Linked DNA regions of Homo sapiens: region 2 is linked to region 1. The links come from fine-mapping of genetic effects on plasma protein levels. A gene starts in region 1. The other region holds a variant in brackets. All regions are shown on one strand. Distances are between the middles of the regions. Region 1 holds the start of SELP (selectin P). Region 2 overlaps SELP (selectin P).

Region 1 (8,341 bases):
GGCAGGCAGATCCCTTGAGGTCAGAAGTTCAAGACCAGCCTTGCCAACATGGCGAAACCAACTCCACTAAAAAATACAAAAATTAGCTGGGCATGGTGGCGCATGCCTGTAATCCCAGCTACTCAGAAGGCTGAGACAGGAGAATCGCTTGAACCCAGGAGACAGAGGTTGCAGTGAGCTGAGATGGCACTACTGCACTCCAGCCTGCTGAAGATTGGGAGATCCTAGAGGTTAACTGAAAAGGTAGTTTGAGACCATATCTTGTGGGTCACAAATACCAGTTGGCAGAAGGGATACTTCTGAACAGAGAAGTATCATGAACACATGCACTTAATGGTGGTATGATTTTTTTTGTGGGGCTGGGGGACAGGGTCTTGCTCTGTTGCCCAGGCTGAAGTGCAGTGGCATGATCTGGGTTCACTGAAACCTCCACCTCCTGGCCTCAAGTGATCTTCCCATCTCAGCCTCCTGAGTAACTGGGACTACAGGCATGCATCACCACACCCGGCTAATTTTTTGTAGAGATAAGTTCTCACTATATTGCCCAGGCTGGCCTGGAGCCCCTGGGCTCAAGCAATACTTTTTCTTTGGCCTCCAAAAATGCTGATATTATAGGGGTGAGAGTAGTGCGATACTTTTTTTTTTTTAAATGAGTTACAATCAGGGAGATTGCACTGCAAAAGAAGAGGCTATTGCAATGGTCCCAGTGAGAGTTAAAGAGGGACAGGTTTGGTCTGGCATCAGTGGGAATGCAAATAGGGGAGGTGAATATGAGAGTTGTTGAGGATGCAGAACTATACAACTTGTTGGTAGCAAAGCCCAGATGTTACAAGCTATTACAGCTAATACATTAGTTCCCTTATGTTTCTGGACGGTGGTGGTGTTAGTGGTGTGGCACAGATATTGGTAGCCCAGCTTAGGGGTGGAAAAAGAAATACAGTGAGAAAAGAGGTTGTCTCTAAGCCAAAGAGCAAATTATGAATATAGACAAGAAGGGACCCAGGACATCAACACTTAGAATCCAAGCATATATTTAATTTAGACTACCAATTGCCATTATTTTGAGTAAAATATTAGCATTAAAAATAAAGTACGACACTTAAAATTTTTTAAAAAGTCTATTGGATCAGAGATGAGTTATATCTCTACAAATAGTGAGGATTTGCTCTGTATTTGACTTCATGAAGTTTCTGATTTACTTTTTAATCAAAAAGATTAGACACCTTGAAGACAATATAATGAATGTCATTTATAAAACCACTGTGTGCCTACTCTCTAGGTTTAGGTCCAGGGTTTTTTCTAAACACAGTTTTTTATGTAGTAAGTCATTTTGATTTTTGAGGATTTGATCAATAAGCTTCTACTTAAAGATCTCTGAAGATGCACATTCTAAGAGCTGGTGGCTAGCCCAGGAGAGTCTGAACTATTTTAGTTGCATTTTGAAAAACAGGTAATGAAAAGAAGAGTAAGGACTGGAAGCCACATAAGGTGGTTAAAAGGTATAAATGGACGAAAATCCAGACCTGCTCCTTAGCCCACTAAAACTTTTTTTTTGTTTTGTTTTTGAGACAAGTCTTGCTCTGTCACCCAGGCTGGAGTTCAGTGGTGTGATCTCAACTCACTGCCACCTCCACCTCCTGGGTTCAAGAGTTTGTCCTGCCTCAGCCTCCTGAGTAGCTGGGATTACAGGCACATGCCAACATGCCCAGCCAGTTTTTGTAAGTTTAGTAAATATGGTGTTTCACCATGTTGGCCAGGCTGCTCTTGAACTCTCGACTTCAAGTGATCTATGCGCCTCGGCCTCCCAAAGTGCTGGGATTACAGGCATGAGCCACTGAGCCCGGCCATAGCCCGCTAAAACTTTGACAAACATCAGTGCAATTTAACTATAAGTTCCCAATCAAGAGCTACTCCTCTGAGATCTATCTGATTGAAAATACCCCACCAGAAAAACCTTATCCTCATTTTCTCAGGTCCTAAAAGTTAATTAAAGCCACTCTCTGAACTTGAAGCAAAATTTACACAGGCAGTTTGAGGTTTCTGAATCTTTGGGGCCAAATGTGCTCAGAGGAAAAGGAAGAGGTCTTGTCTTTGAAATATTAAAAACCATTCCAGGGCTGGGGCCTTAGCACTTCGCTGTAGAGCTCAAGCCTAATTTCAGGGTACCAAGAGAGGGGCTTCTGAACATAAAGCCCAGGAGGCAATCGAGAAGGGTTCTTACCCTGGGATCCACATGGAGGTCTGGGAACCTCCTGTGGTTGTCTCTAAAGGTTGGTGTTTATGTCGATGTTTTTGCTTTCATCTGGGAAAGACAAGTTGTAACTTTCATCAAAATCTCAAAGAACTCTCTGATCCAATAAGTTCATACCTTTGAAATAGAGGAGGATGCCAAGGAGAGTAGAAGGAAGAGAGGAATAACTGCTCATTTAAGTTAACCAATTCAGAAGTATGACATGCAAAAAGACAGGACAAAAGTAATTCATATCCTTAGGTCATTGTGGTTCAAACTTAAGACAGGCTCAAACTCCTTCCTCTTCTCTTTATCATACTCTTATTCCTGTTTTCCCCAACACAGAAACCCACATTATAAGTACTTGAAAAGTGTGCTATAGTAAAGCAAAGCAGTAGGATGAATCAGGTGTATGCGGTACTTTTTTCTGGAGTCCCACAGAAAGGTGCTCAAAAACAGAGACCTGCCTGGTTCCTCCATAGCCACAGACTGCAGGATTTCGGACCCTGGGACTATGTGGGATACTCTTGGAAAGTCTGAGGAAAATTGGAAGTAGCTTAACCATGTGCATTTTATCTAGGTGCATATAACATTGCTGAGTTCAAAATGCCTAGCTATCCTTGGATCTTCCCTGAATTAGAAGTAGCCTAACCACGTGCATCTTATCCATGAGCATATAACATTGCTGAGTTCAAAATGCCTAGCTATCCTTGGATCTTCCCTGAATCCTAAACCCCACTATTCCTAAGAATTTTCTTTTTATTGTAACAATAATGGCTAACATTTACTAATCACTTACTATGTGTCAGGCTCAGATCTGGATGCTTTTCAGCAAAATCTTATTTAATCCTCATGATGAAACTATAGAGTATTATTACTATATCCATTTTATAGAAGAAGAAACTGAGTCATTAACAAGATTGAGTCTTAGGGCAGAAAAGGAAACTATGTGGATATTCCAGATCAGTCCCAGAAGATTCATAGGCTCACAGAAAGAAATGGGAGGGATGGGGATGAGAAACTATTCAATTGTAAGCTTGTCCCAGGGCACCTACCCAGTCTTCCATTTATTCCATCATTTATCCCAGAGAGAAGTACAGTCTTGGAAAATGGGGTGACAGGTTTACCATGATCTATTCTCAGAGAGCCCCTATAAATTCTAGTAGGAGGAACAGCAGCTGCGGAGCCAGAGGACAGGCCCCAGATCCCAACATCATGTAGCCTAACAGTGAAGCTTAGATAAAACACAGCCTCTGTAAACCACGATGGCTTTATTTGTAAAATAGAAATAGCAACCTCAACTCACAAGGGTGTTGGGAGGGTCAAAGTGGACAGCAAGTTTAAAAGTACTCACAAAATCTAATAGGCAATTCAACATAAAACTCCATGGCTATCGCTGTTCCTCACTTTCTGAACCTTTACCTGCCTGACTTTACTCCATACCACTCCAACTCACTTCAACCACTTCCCATGCAGAAAAAAATAAACTCACCATCTCCTCTGTGACTCTGCTGGTTTTCTGCCTTCTGCCCAACCCAGACTGCTTACAGTCTCACTGCCTCCCCTCAGTGTCAGGCTGTTTAGAAAAACAACTTCCTATTCACATTCCAGAAACTCACCACAGCCCTTCCCATGAAGTTAGAATGTTGATAATGCAAGAGTAATGTTGGCAGCTTAGAAATAGTGGTTGCCAAGAGGCAAGGGGTCACCCCCTTCCATGGAAGATGGTCTGGAGGCAGGCGCAAGGTGAATTACTCCTGGATATCCCAGGCTGAGCAATGTGGGAACAGTACACACACAAAGGTTTCCTTGGATTATGATATAAGCTCCAATTTAAAGTAGTACATTTGGAAAACATGCTTTGAATTAATTACAATGTGATTTTCCAGTGCCCATTTTCCAGTAATTATGACATGTCAGTGAATGTTTACTATTCCGGCAGCCTTCTGAGGGAAAGAAGCAAAATTAGTAGCACAAAAAAAAATAGAGAGAAATGGAAAAAGCCACTAACAGTTTTCTGGCGCTTGGGAAATTTTATTGGTAAGTTTCAAAATGACGTATTAAATAGACATAGGTCATGTGAAAGGAATTCTGCTTCTTATATCAGAAATAAAAAGGTATACAAATAGATACCTTTTTATTTTCCTCTTCCCATGGGATGTGTAGGACCAAAAAGCTGTTGGCATAGTGGTTAAGACTTCAGCTGTGCTGTTAAACTGCCCGAGACCCATCCTGGCTCCTCTTCTGGCTATCTACTGGGCAAACTACTTAAGCTCTCTATGCCTCTGTTTCCTCAACTGTAAAACAGAATAACAGAACTTGCCTCACCGGGTTGTTGTAGGATGAAATGAGTTAATATGTACAGAGTGATTGAAATGACACTTGGCCCACAATTGATGCTCAACAAATGTTAGTGATTATTATTACTTTTCAGATTGATCTCAGACAGCAAAATCAAGTATCAAGTATTTAGTTTCAAGTCAGAAAGCCATAACTCCTATTTATACTCTTGGAATTCTATTGTACAGTAGTAGGTATTATTCTTCATTCACTTCATGATGGTTACAGCTTGTAAATAGGCATCTCATGGATAAATTTAAAATGGAATGAAGTAGAAACATTGGAAGAAAGTCTAAAGGTAAAGATGAATTAGGGTATATAAGGCTGCATTTGCACGTTGGAATTTGGGACCAAGAAGAAAAAATTAATTATATAGTAGAAGTAGAAAAGATGGTGAAGGAAATGCTGTTGAAGGAATGACTGTAGGGGAATAAGGGAAACTTAGAGAGAGGAAAAAATGAGGAACTTCTTGGCAGCATGATGCAGTTCAGAGTCCAGACCCTAGAGTCAGACTGCCTGGCTCCACCACCTACCAGCTGTGTTGGGCGTTACTAATCTCCCTATAACTCAGTTTCCTCAGTGATGTGGTTTGGCTGTGTCCCCACCCAAATCTCATCTGGAATTGTAGCTCCCATAATTCCCACAGGTTGTGGGAGGCACCTGGTAGATCATTGAATCATGGGGGTGGTTTCCCCCATACTGTTCTCATGGTAGTGAATAAGTCGCATGAGAGCTGATGGTTTTATAAGGGGAAACCCCTTTTGTTTGGTTCTCATTTCTCTCTCTTCCCTGCTGCCATGTAAGACGTGTCTTTTGCTTTCTACCATGATTGTGAGGACTCCCCATCCACGTGGAACTGTGAGTCCATTAAACCTTTTTTTTTTTAATAAGTTATCCAGTCTCGGGTATGTCTCTATCAGCATCATGAGAACAGAATAATACACTCAGCAATGTGAATAATAAGGATAATAATCACCAAATACATAGACATGTAAGGACCATTAAATGAATTTAATGTGTTTGGAACAATACCTATCACGCTGTTAAGTGTAAGTTTAAGTGTTGGCTATTATTCTATAAGACTTGCCTCCATGTCTTTCTGTTCTTACTTTCACTCACCAGCCCCTCTTTTTGGCATTGCCTCATGTTAGAAAAAATATATATAGTCTCAGATGGGGATGAGGAAGTGTGGTATGTAGACTAGTAGGTTCTTTTTTTGAGACAGGGTCTCACTCTGCGGCCCAGGCTGGAGTGCAGTGGCATGATTACTGCTTGCTCCAGCCTTGACCTCCTGGGCTCAAGCAATTCTCCCACCTCAGCCTCCTGAGTAGCTGGGACTATAGATGTGTGCCATCACTACTGGCTAATTAAAAAAAAAAATCTCTAGAGATAGGGTCTCTCTATATTTCCCAGGCTGGTCTTGAATTCCTGGGCTCAAGTGATCCTTTCACCTCAGCCTCCCAAAATGTTGGGATTACAGGCATGAGCCACCATGCCCAGCCTGGTAGTTTCTTATTTATAATAAGTTTGATATTAATAAGTTCAATTGATCATATGTTTTTAAGTTTGATATTGTTAAATTTTAGTGAATATAAGGAAAGCATAAAAAGATTCCTATGCAGGTGACATTAGCAAGATGGTGGAGTAGGAGATGTCAGCCTTATGCCCCAACAAAAAAACAAACATAGACAGTTATACACAAACCAAAATAGCCCTCACAAGGGTGGGGAGTTGGGGGATGGGGCTCAAGAGCCTGTTAAAGAATTTGGAACAACACAATGGAGAAAAGAAAGAATATCCATGTAGAAGAATCACCGGTGAGACTGGCATATATGAGACACCAGGAGATAGCTACGAATAAAGAAATTTGTAGGCTATCTGTGTCAGTCATGTGACACAGAGCCACTGAGGCCCCCAGTGTCCTGCTCCACAGAGGACACTGGCATCTTTTATCCAACAGCCATTCCCATAGCAGGATGCTAAAAAGGGAAACACAGTTGCACTACCCCTCACACCCCCTCACCAAGAAGCAGCTATTGTTGCACTGCCCCAGGACTGGGGCCAGGGTTACCACCTCTCACAAGTCTATGTGTGTTCCTGATCCCCAAAAGTTGTGGCTGCTCTACAGATATTCACACTCTGGACTGTGGCTCTGTGGCTGCAGTGCACCTCCTCATGTCTCAGACACTGGAGTCACTGCTGTTGTGAACTAGATCTCACCCTGGGACCCCAAGCCAAGTTCTCTCTGTGAAAGTCTTTGCTCCAGACACTAGTTCAGCCACTGTAGAAAGGTAACCCATATTCTCAACTCCAGAGCTGCTGTAGTAATGTGCACACCTGCGCTCCAGACCCTGTCTCTGAGGCTGTACTACACACACCCACACCTCCAACACCAGAGCCACCACTATAGTGAGCTAGTGAACACCCTGGGTCCTAGAGTCAAGGTTTCTCTGTGCCTGTCCATGCTCTAGTCACCAGCTCAGCCACCAAGGAGAGCTAGCCCACACCCTGGATCCTGGAGCCACTGTAGCTCTGCGTATGCATGCAGTAAAGTCCCTGGCTCCTTAGCTGCTTTATAAGTACCTGCATTTTACACACCATTATCAATGTGATAGTAAGTATGCCTGTGCCTTGGGCACTGGTACCATTGCTACAATTGAATCTGGTGCTGTGGTCCCTCCATGCATGCCCATGCTTCAGGCCTTGGCTCTTGGCCACTCCATGGGCACTGTTCATCAGACACCAGTGTCACCACCACCAGGAGCAGGCCTGCAAGTTAGACCTAATTCCAAGAGGGATGTCCTCAGTCATGACTTCCCAGGTGGGGAAAAAAAGAGATATGGAGGACTTGTCACAATTGAAAACCTCAACAGCCTCATTGCCACTGTAGATACCCACAGTGTTGGCCTCTAAGGATCCCTGTAGTATTCACTAACACCAACCTCAGCTGACAGATCTGCATGGAGACCACACAGCTTTGCCCCTACTGAAGTCAGAACTTTTGCATCCCACCCAGCCAGCATCCTCGCATTATTCCACATAAGAAGGTATTTCTCCACCAAAGTCAGCCCATACAGCCTGAAATTGGGGCAGATCCACCAGATGCTCAGACAGCAGTGTAAGGCAGCAAGAAACATGAAAACCCAAATTAAAATATCACCACCTAAGAAACACAATAATTTCCCAGTAGCTGACCCAAAAGAAATGGAGTACTACAAATGGCCTGACAATGGATTCAAGATAATTGTTTTTAAAGAAGCTCAGTTACTTTGAAGCAAACACAGAGAAACAATTTGGTGAAATCAGAGAAACAATAAATGCACAACATAAGAAATGTAACAGAAAGATTGAAATCATAAAAGAAATTGGAGCTGAAAAATATAATGAATGAAGTGAGAAATGCAGTAGAAATCACCAGTAGCAGACTTGATCAAGCAGAAGAAAGAATCTGTGAACTGAAGACAGGTTTTTGAAAATATACAGTGAGAGGAGAAAAAAGAATGAAAAGAAATGATGAAAGCCTACAAGATTTATGGGACAGCATCAAGAGAGCTAACATTCAGCCAGACTCAGTGGCTCATGCCATAATCCCAGCGCTTTGGGAGGCCAAGGTGAGTGGATCACCTGAGGTCAGGAGTCAAGACCAGCCTGACCAACATGGTGAAACCCAGTCTCTACTAAAAATACAAAAAAATTAGCCAGGGATTGTGGCACATGCCTGTAATCCCAGCTACTGGGGAGACTGAGGCAGCAGAATCTCTTCAACCTAGA
Region 2 (8,341 bases), 19 kb before region 1:
AACATGTGTCAATAATTTTTAAGTTATCATGCTTTTGGACCCAAGAATTTATGCTAAGTATGTAATCAAGATGCATACCAAAAAATCTATTTAGAGATTTTTGTGAAGACATTATTTGTAAGAGCGGAATATTGAAAACAAACACAAATGCCATTAATTGAGGGTGGAAATTAATGATGGTGGATCCATGAAAAGAATGTTAAAGGTCACTAAAAATAATATATTTTAACTTGTAAAGATAGGAGAGAGGTCTCAATGTATGATGTTAAATAAAAAATCAGAGTAAAAATTATAATATACACCATGATCTCAAAGATGTAAAATAAATAACCATATACGAAGAGAGCACACATATTCCATGTGTTGTCTCTTCTCATCTTTAAAATGGTAGTAATAATTGTAACTACCTCATAGAGTTAGACTGAGATCATAGAAAGTGCTCAATGAACATTAGCTGCTATATTAGTAGCAGTGGTAGTAATAGATAGTAATAATATCATTAAGGCTTTGCGTCACATGCAGACACTGAGTTCAGGAGTGGGAAACATTCAGAAGGCCTATGAAGGGGGTTAGTGAGACCACATCTCTGGATACTTAAGAGAATATCCAACTATCTTTTCTTGATTAGACATTTACCTTCCTGGAGACAACAATGGCTTGAATAATCCCTTATGATCCGTTTTAAGTGTGTCAAAGAGCTCATTGTGTCTTTTTCTCCCAGATAACATATACAATACATTCCATAACTCAGACTAAGTGTCAGCATCATGGTGTATAGCCATCTATTCTATTGCCTTCTTGTTTTTTCTTTTTTTTTTTTTTTGCTGTTCAATTTTTTATTATAGTGAGATATACGTAGCATGAAATTTAATTTACCATTTACCATGTCACCAATATCAAGTGTACAGTTCAGTGGTATTAAGCACATTCATATTATTGTGCCACCATCACCATTATTCATCTCCAAAACTCTTTTCATCATCTCAAACTGAAACTCCGTATCCATTAAACCATAACTCCCTATTTCCCTCTTCCGCCGAGCCCTTGGCAACCTCCGTTCTACTTTCTGTCTCTATGACTTTGACTACTCTAAGTTCCTCATATGAGTGGAATCATACAGTATTTGTCCTTTCATAGTGGCTTATTTCACTTAGCATAATGTCTTCAAGGTTCATTCATGTTTGTAGCAGAGGTCAGAATTTACTTCCTCTTTAAGGTTGAATAATATTCCACTGTAAGTATGTGGAATACTTTTTACTTATCCTTTCATCCATTGATGGGTGTTTGGGTTGCTTCCACATTTTAACTGTTGTGATTAATAGTGCTATGAACATGGGTGCACAAATATCTCTTCAAGACCTGCTTTCAAACCACTGCCTCATTTTAAAATCAAGGTATACTTAGGAACCCAGAGGAGTCACATAGATTGCTCAGAGGTCTCCGTAAATGAAAACACAAAATGTCAATATTACACTTCTGGAACATGACTTTAGTGTGAGGTACTCCTCGTAAAAAAAATAATAATCCTTGTGAACCACCACACCCGCCCCCCATGAGTGCCTTAGTATAAGAGCAAAAGATTAGAAACCTAACATATTGAAAGAGGATCATTTTGTCAAATCAGACCACAGACATGTGATTTATAAGGTAACATGTCATCATCATCATTTTCCCTATAAATCCTATAAGAGTTTTAAAGTTGCGTTTACACACATTAATTCACAACTACTAGTGAGGCAGGTAGGTAAGGCTGATAATAGTAGCCCCATTTTACAGAAGATACTGAGCCTCAGAGAGTCTAAACCACTAGCTTAAGGACAGGAAGTGACAGGACTGAGCTAAACACCTTGTCCATTACCCTTCCCCATCCCATGCTATTCCTCATGCATGATTTATTCCCCCAAGCCCCATCTTCTTCATTCCAATGCACCCTATATGTGTCAATCAGTGCAAACCTCACCTTGACTATACTATAGTGGACATGTGCCTAAGACTGGCTTCACGCACCGTTTCATCTCATCCCTGGTCCCAAGCACAAAGGACATGGCCCATAGTAGGTTCTCAGTGAATATCTGATAAAGAAAGGCATGCCAATGCTCAGTGCAGATGCTGATGCCTCTAACGAGCTGAGACACACAGAAAAACATTACCACTGTTACAGTACCTTGACAGACTGGGGCTGGTGCTGTCCACTGTCCCAAGTTATCACACCGAACTATATCGGCTCCTCTCAGCATGAAACCTTCAGCACAGCGGAAGCTACAGTTGGTGTCATACTGAAACGCTCTCAAGGATGGAGAGCAATCCATGCTTCCGTGGACAGGACTCTCCAGCGGCTCACACGAAATAGCTAAGTGGAAAAGGTATCTTCTAAAGCCAGGTAATGGAAGGGCCGGGTTCTTCCTCAGAAAAAATTCCTAGATGCTATATCTTTCCTGTCCACATTTTCAGTGTGTTCAGAACCCTAAAACCTCCATTTTCCAAAAGAGAGACTGCCTGGAACACCTTCCCATGCCCCTCTTGGCCTGACTCACTCTCACCTGCCCTTCAGGTCTCAGCTTAGACTTCCCTTTCCTTAGGAAGCCCTCCCTTCCCACCTTAACTAAGGGTAGAAGCCCCTGCAATGTGCTCCCACAGCCTCTGTTCTTGCGCTGTTCATACATGATTGTCATTCTTCCCCATTATACCGTGGTCTCCTCGAAGTTGGGCTCAGTCATTCATAGTTTTATTCTGGAGCTGAGCAGAGTGTTTTGTACATTGAAAGTGCTCATTAAATATTGACATTATCTGTGAAATTGAACCTGAAAAGAGTATATACAGGAAAATGCTGGACTTATAGGGAAAAAAAAAAAAGCTGGACTAGCATAGCTTATTGTTGACACTGTTACCTAGTCCTGTAAAATGATCCTGACCGGGCTTTGTCTCTAGAACACAGGATGTCATCCTAATCAGACTTCAGTTGCCAAGTGAGTGCAGCCAAAGTGAATTCCTGAGCACAATTAAGCCCTGAGTGACCTCAGTTCTGATAAAGATTGGTTTCCTCATGCTCTTCCTTGATAAAGCATTTCATTTCCAGGCTATTTCTGAAACTTTTCAAAGTGTAAAGACTACCTCTTTGCTCTGGGCTTTGACCTCTGGTTTTTACAGACTCAGAGCATTTAAGAACCAAAAATCCGGCTGAGCACAATGGCTCACACCTATAATCCCAGCACTTTGAGAGGCTGATGTGAGTGAATCACTTGAGGTCGGGAGTTTGAGACCAGCCTGGCCAAAGTGGTGAAACCCTAGTCTCTATTAAAAATACAAAAAGTTGCCTGTAATCCTAGCTATTCGGGAGGCTGAGGCAGGAGAATCGTTTGAACCTGGGAGGCAGAGGTTGCAGTGAGCTGAGATCGTGCCACTGCACTTCAGCCTGGGCGACAGAGTGAGACTCTGTCTCAAAACAAACAAACAAACAAACAAACAAACAAACAAACAAAAACACCAAAATCCTCTAGTGTTTCTCTCTTCTCTCTTATGTTTTAGGCAAGAAAAGTGAGGTTCAGAAGTGTTAAGTGACTTCTCTAAAGTCTCATAGCTAGATAGTAGCAGGGTTGGGCTTGTCATCCAGGTCTGGGAATTCACTAATCTATCGTAAATTTCCTATTCTCCCATTACCACTGTCCGCCTTATAAACTGAGGGTGTGAGGCAATTGCAGAGAATTCATTTTGG[C/T]GGAATTATGTAATTGCCTGGGATTGCATCACACACTTTTTCGATGCAGTGTTCCTTCCTTTGCTTCTTTGTCAAAGGCTACCCTCAAAGACTACATGGTGAACCACTCTCTTTAGCCACCTTAGCCGCTGCTCCCAACTCCCTCTCAAGTATAGGACATGGTCCTATACCTCGGATATGTCAGTAGAGCAGAAGCTCTATGCTAGGTACTTTATACATGCTATTTAATTGTATACTTTTTATGTACTTAATCCTCACAAGCACCTTGCAATTCTTAGCTCCATTTCACAGATGAGAAAACCATGGTTCCTGGAGGTTGAAGAGCTTGCTCTAGTGCAAGAACTTAGAAGAGATCACCCCGACACTGAGAGCCCTTGGCCTCTCTACCATGCCATGATTCCTTCTTGGACAGAATGGAGGTTGCTAATGAAAAATCCTACCCTCACAGGTTGGCAAGGGTGCAGACCAGTGTCCAGAGTCAATGCAGCGGAGCATGTCCAAGCCCCTCACTCTGTAGCCGGGCTGGCACTCAAATTTACAGCTGGAGCCATAGGCAAAAGCAGTGAGCGGATGAACACAGTCCATGGTTCCTTCACTGGGGGCTTCCAGGTGCTGACACTGCACAGCTGGAGAGAATAACCAAGGATAAAGAGAAAGATACTGAGAAAGGAGAAAAGCCACACAGAGAGCAATGGTGGAACCACCTCTGAAATGCAGGTGGAGCTAGCAAGATGTAAAGGTCAAGAGACCCTAATGATGTTTGTCCAGACTTGGATTACCAGTTCCCAGGGTGATCTGAGTCTGTTAAAAACAAAGATTCCTCCAAGCTGTATTCTTAATGTCCTCTATTCCCTATACTTCTATAAACCTGTCTCAGTAGGTCTTCTAGTGTCCACTTATAGATGTAGAGGCCACCCTTTCTAATCTTATGGGGAAATTATGAATGAGGCCATTCTGAAACTGCCTGCATTTGTGTTTGGGGAAAGAAAGGAATTTTTTTCCTTTCTCATCTCAGATGAACCCAATCTAGCTGAATGGCAGGTAGGAAGAGAATTAAATTTTGGCAATTCAGGCCAGCTTCTCCATAAGCTGGTCAATTTCATCTATGCACTAAGTAAGGACTGGGTGCAATGGACATTATACATCCCAACTACCTGAAACTCACCTTTACACACTGGGGCTGGGGCTGTCCATACCCCCGAGGCTGTGCATTGCACCACTTCCGGTCCAACTAATGCAAATCCCTCTTCACAACTGAAGCTGCAGCTAGACTGATGCTGGAATGCTTTTGCAGAATGAAGGCAGGTCATGTTTCCTCGTTCAGGAATCTTCAGGGGTGGGCACTGGGCAGCTAAAACCAACCACAGAATAATAGTGTGAGTCCTTGGACAAATTTTGTCCATCACCTTGGAAGCCTTCAAATTCTGCAGCAGTCACACCTTCCCAAAGTGGCAGGCAGGTTGATGCACTAGAATGGTTAAATGGTGTTTTCAATAGCTGCTTGGAAAGATCAAACACCCTTGTTTTTCATGTAGAGAAGTTAGGTAAAATTATCAAATTAATAATTCTTAACCCCTAAGTCCTCATCATTGTACTCTGTTTACTTTACAATTAACAAAGGGAAAGAGGGGTCCCTTTGTAATGTTTTTGCCTGCGAATCAACAATTAAACTGACTAAGTCACTCTACCCATAAAAAAATACCATGAAAATTGAAATTAATGTTACTCTGGTTGACAGTTAACAGTGATAACCAGAGTTTTCCATCTAACCTAGATGGTCATTATTTCTCACATTTTTTAATGGAGAAAGCTCATTGTGTCCTCTTCTCCCCCAAAATTCTATGTCAGTGAGGATGAAAAGAATAAGGTCTACATACCTAAACACTGTGGAGGCTTATTTGTCCAGATTCCAGAAGCCAAGCATTCCAGCTTGCTGGGCCCATTTACTTGGTACCCGTCAGTGCAGTGGAAGCTGCACTGCGAGTTAAAAGAGAAGTTTCCCAGAGGGTGGCTGCAGTTCATGAGCACGTGTTGAGGGAGCTCAAGTTCTCCACACTCTCTCACTGCAGGAGACAAAATAGTGATTTTTATTTTCCATGTAGAATTAACAGCAATGTCATGTTTGCTGAAAGCTGTAACTATTTGTGTAACCCTCTTAACTCTAATTTTCTAAACTTTTAACCCAAGCTATCCATCTCTACTTGGTCTCTTTGTATTGGCTGCATCTTGGGAAATAGTCATTCTTTCACAAGTTTTTACTTCAAACAAGTAAAATTAGCCTGAAAGTTCTGTTGGTTTTGCTTCCTTTCCCTTTCCCTTTTCTTTTTTGAAATTTATGAGTCAATGTTTTCTCCCAAGAATAAAATGTTTTTACCTAGAGTGTGTGTCTAGGGACACTGAGTGGAGGAGACAGATGATAGAGGGGGGCTGGTACCATCCTATTCTCACTGGAGAGACTTCAACATGATTTATTTACTTCTTGGCATCATCTCTAGCATAAAACCAAAATAATATCAACAAAAAGGAAGCCTCACCGTATTCACATTCTGGCCCATAGAATCCAGGGTAACAGGAGCAGGTGTAGTTCCCGATGGTCTCGAGGCACTCTCCTTGTTTGCTGCAGGACATGTCCTGGCAGGAGGCTGCATAGATATGGAAAGGTCAGAGTCATGGACATTCACAGATGTGAGGAAAGGCTGAATTCTCGTTTTGACCACAGACTCATCCCCTCTCAGATAGGACTGAGCTAGCCAGACAAGAGGGAAGCACAGTATCTTCTAGAGAGCCAACCTGTCCCTTGTGAAAAGCATTGTAGGGGCCTGCTGGAGTATTGCGTGGCTCCCATTTCATACTGCATTTAGTATTTCCTAAGGAGGGTATTGTTGTGTGTGGACACAGAGGGACAAATGGAGCCAATGACAGATGTGTGGACAGAGAAACCCTATGTGGTACAAAATGGGCTGTGGTTTTCAAACCAAGCATTGTTTTATTATGGAAGCCCAATGTCACGTATTACTGCATTGAGGTTAGGCACCAGATGTGGGGCGTGGGGTCACACAGGTGTGATATGAATCCTGGCTCTGCTGCCTACTTGCTATGTGACCTTAGGCAAGTTACTTCTCTGAGCTCAGCTTGCACAGTGTTAGAGCCCAAACCCTTTCACCTTTCATTTGCTTCAAATCTATGTCCAGAATCCTACAGTGGAGAAACAGAGGAGCCAAATGAGATGTTTAAGACGTACTCATGGTAAAGGACAAACAATCTTATGAGGTGATGTTTCATGAGTCTGAATACAGCAGGCGAAGAGAGTACTGACTATGGCTGAACTGCCATGTCCTCTTCACCAAGATAGTGCCACTCAGGTGACAGAATAGAGAAGGGCCATGGTTTCTTTCCTGCAAGAAAGTATTTTAGGGTATATGCACTTGATGAGAATTAGTATTAGAATTGATACTTTCAAAGCACTGAGATGTTTTTATTAATGAGGTCATAGTTGGGGGTAAGTTCTATGGCTGAACTGTTTTCTGGTGGTTACTTCCTCTGTCTTAAGCCCTGTCCACATGCTGGTTCACTTGGAAGTATATTACAAAAGAATATCCATATGTCATATGTGGATATGCTGTGCTACATGATCTCTATGTTTCCTCTCAATTCTGAGATACTAAAATTCTATAAACCATGCAAGGTTCTATAGGAAGAAGTTCCTGTGGCAGCCAGTGAATTTGGTGAAGCTGCACTGAGACACTGGGAAGGGTTCAAATAAAGAGAAGATGTAGGAGGCAATAGCAGCTAAATGGATACAGGTTTGGTCCACATCCTATTCACTTCGCTCCCTGACCTTAACCCCACCAATGTCTTAATACCTTACAGTAGCAACCCCTGCCTGCCCTATGTTCTTGGAGCATACAAATGTTTCCCCAATTATAGCTTCCTTGGGATCTCAGAACTCTAGGGGAAAAAAAGAGACAATGTTCTGTATTCTATCCCATTTCAGGGTTTCCTGAATAGATAGGTTAGCAATTTGTCTATTCCTTTGGATCTCCAGGGAGAAGATGATTTATTCATGATGATTCAATGAATAAATCTTTTTTCGATAGCCTGCTCTGAGGTCTAATAATTCCTGACATGTGGAGAATTATTCCAACAATCAAACTTAATTTCATATTACAGTAAATATATCTATTTCTCATCTCCCATGGATAATTGATGCTTCTCTACATCCTTTACATCTTAGATGGCAAAACGACAATCAATGGTAGTGGCTGCTTAGAGTACTGTGTTGGTGGAGATAAAACCCATCTGTGTTCAGGTAAAGTTGTATTAATTAGTGATGTCTCTACCACTGTTGTGGGTTAGAGGAGTGTCATCATTTATGCCAGTAATTTTTTATCTTTTTTCTATCTTGCAATTTTTTTGGCAAGCTTTATTGAGGAAGACTGTCTTGCAGAAATGGATTTTGAAGGTTGGGTGTGAAGGGGAAGTAGTGGCATATTGAAACAGCTAGTGGCAGTCAAGGTTATCTGATAAGAGATAATTCTAGGGAGGCATAGCCCAGAAAGGGGTAGAGAGCTGACTGGGAGAGCAGTAGGATGAGCTAATATCCTGGTAATGTCCATCCTGATCCATGAA

What was found. A credible set is the group of variants that fine-mapping cannot tell apart. PIP is the posterior inclusion probability: the model's chance that the variant is causal. Sun 2018 read protein levels with aptamers (SomaScan).
Region 2: its variant is the best candidate, but not a certain one, in a credible set for the plasma level of the SELP protein (Sun 2018, PIP 0.52).

What each region holds. Positions count from the first base shown.
Region 1 is chr1:169,626,350-169,634,690 of GRCh38, forward strand. It overlaps SELP (selectin P), which reads right to left and starts at 3,775. Exons shown (of 17, transcript NM_003005.4): 1 at 3,723-3,775. The coding sequence starts at 3,725.
Region 2 is chr1:169,607,340-169,615,680 of GRCh38, forward strand. SELP (selectin P) reads right to left here. Exons shown (of 17, transcript NM_003005.4): 4 at 6,247-6,354; 5 at 5,590-5,775; 6 at 4,878-5,063; 7 at 4,153-4,338; 8 at 2,165-2,350. Among named protein-coding and RNA genes, the nearest start is that of SELP, 19 kb to the right of the region's middle. The variant C/T (reference allele first, on the strand shown) is at 3,713.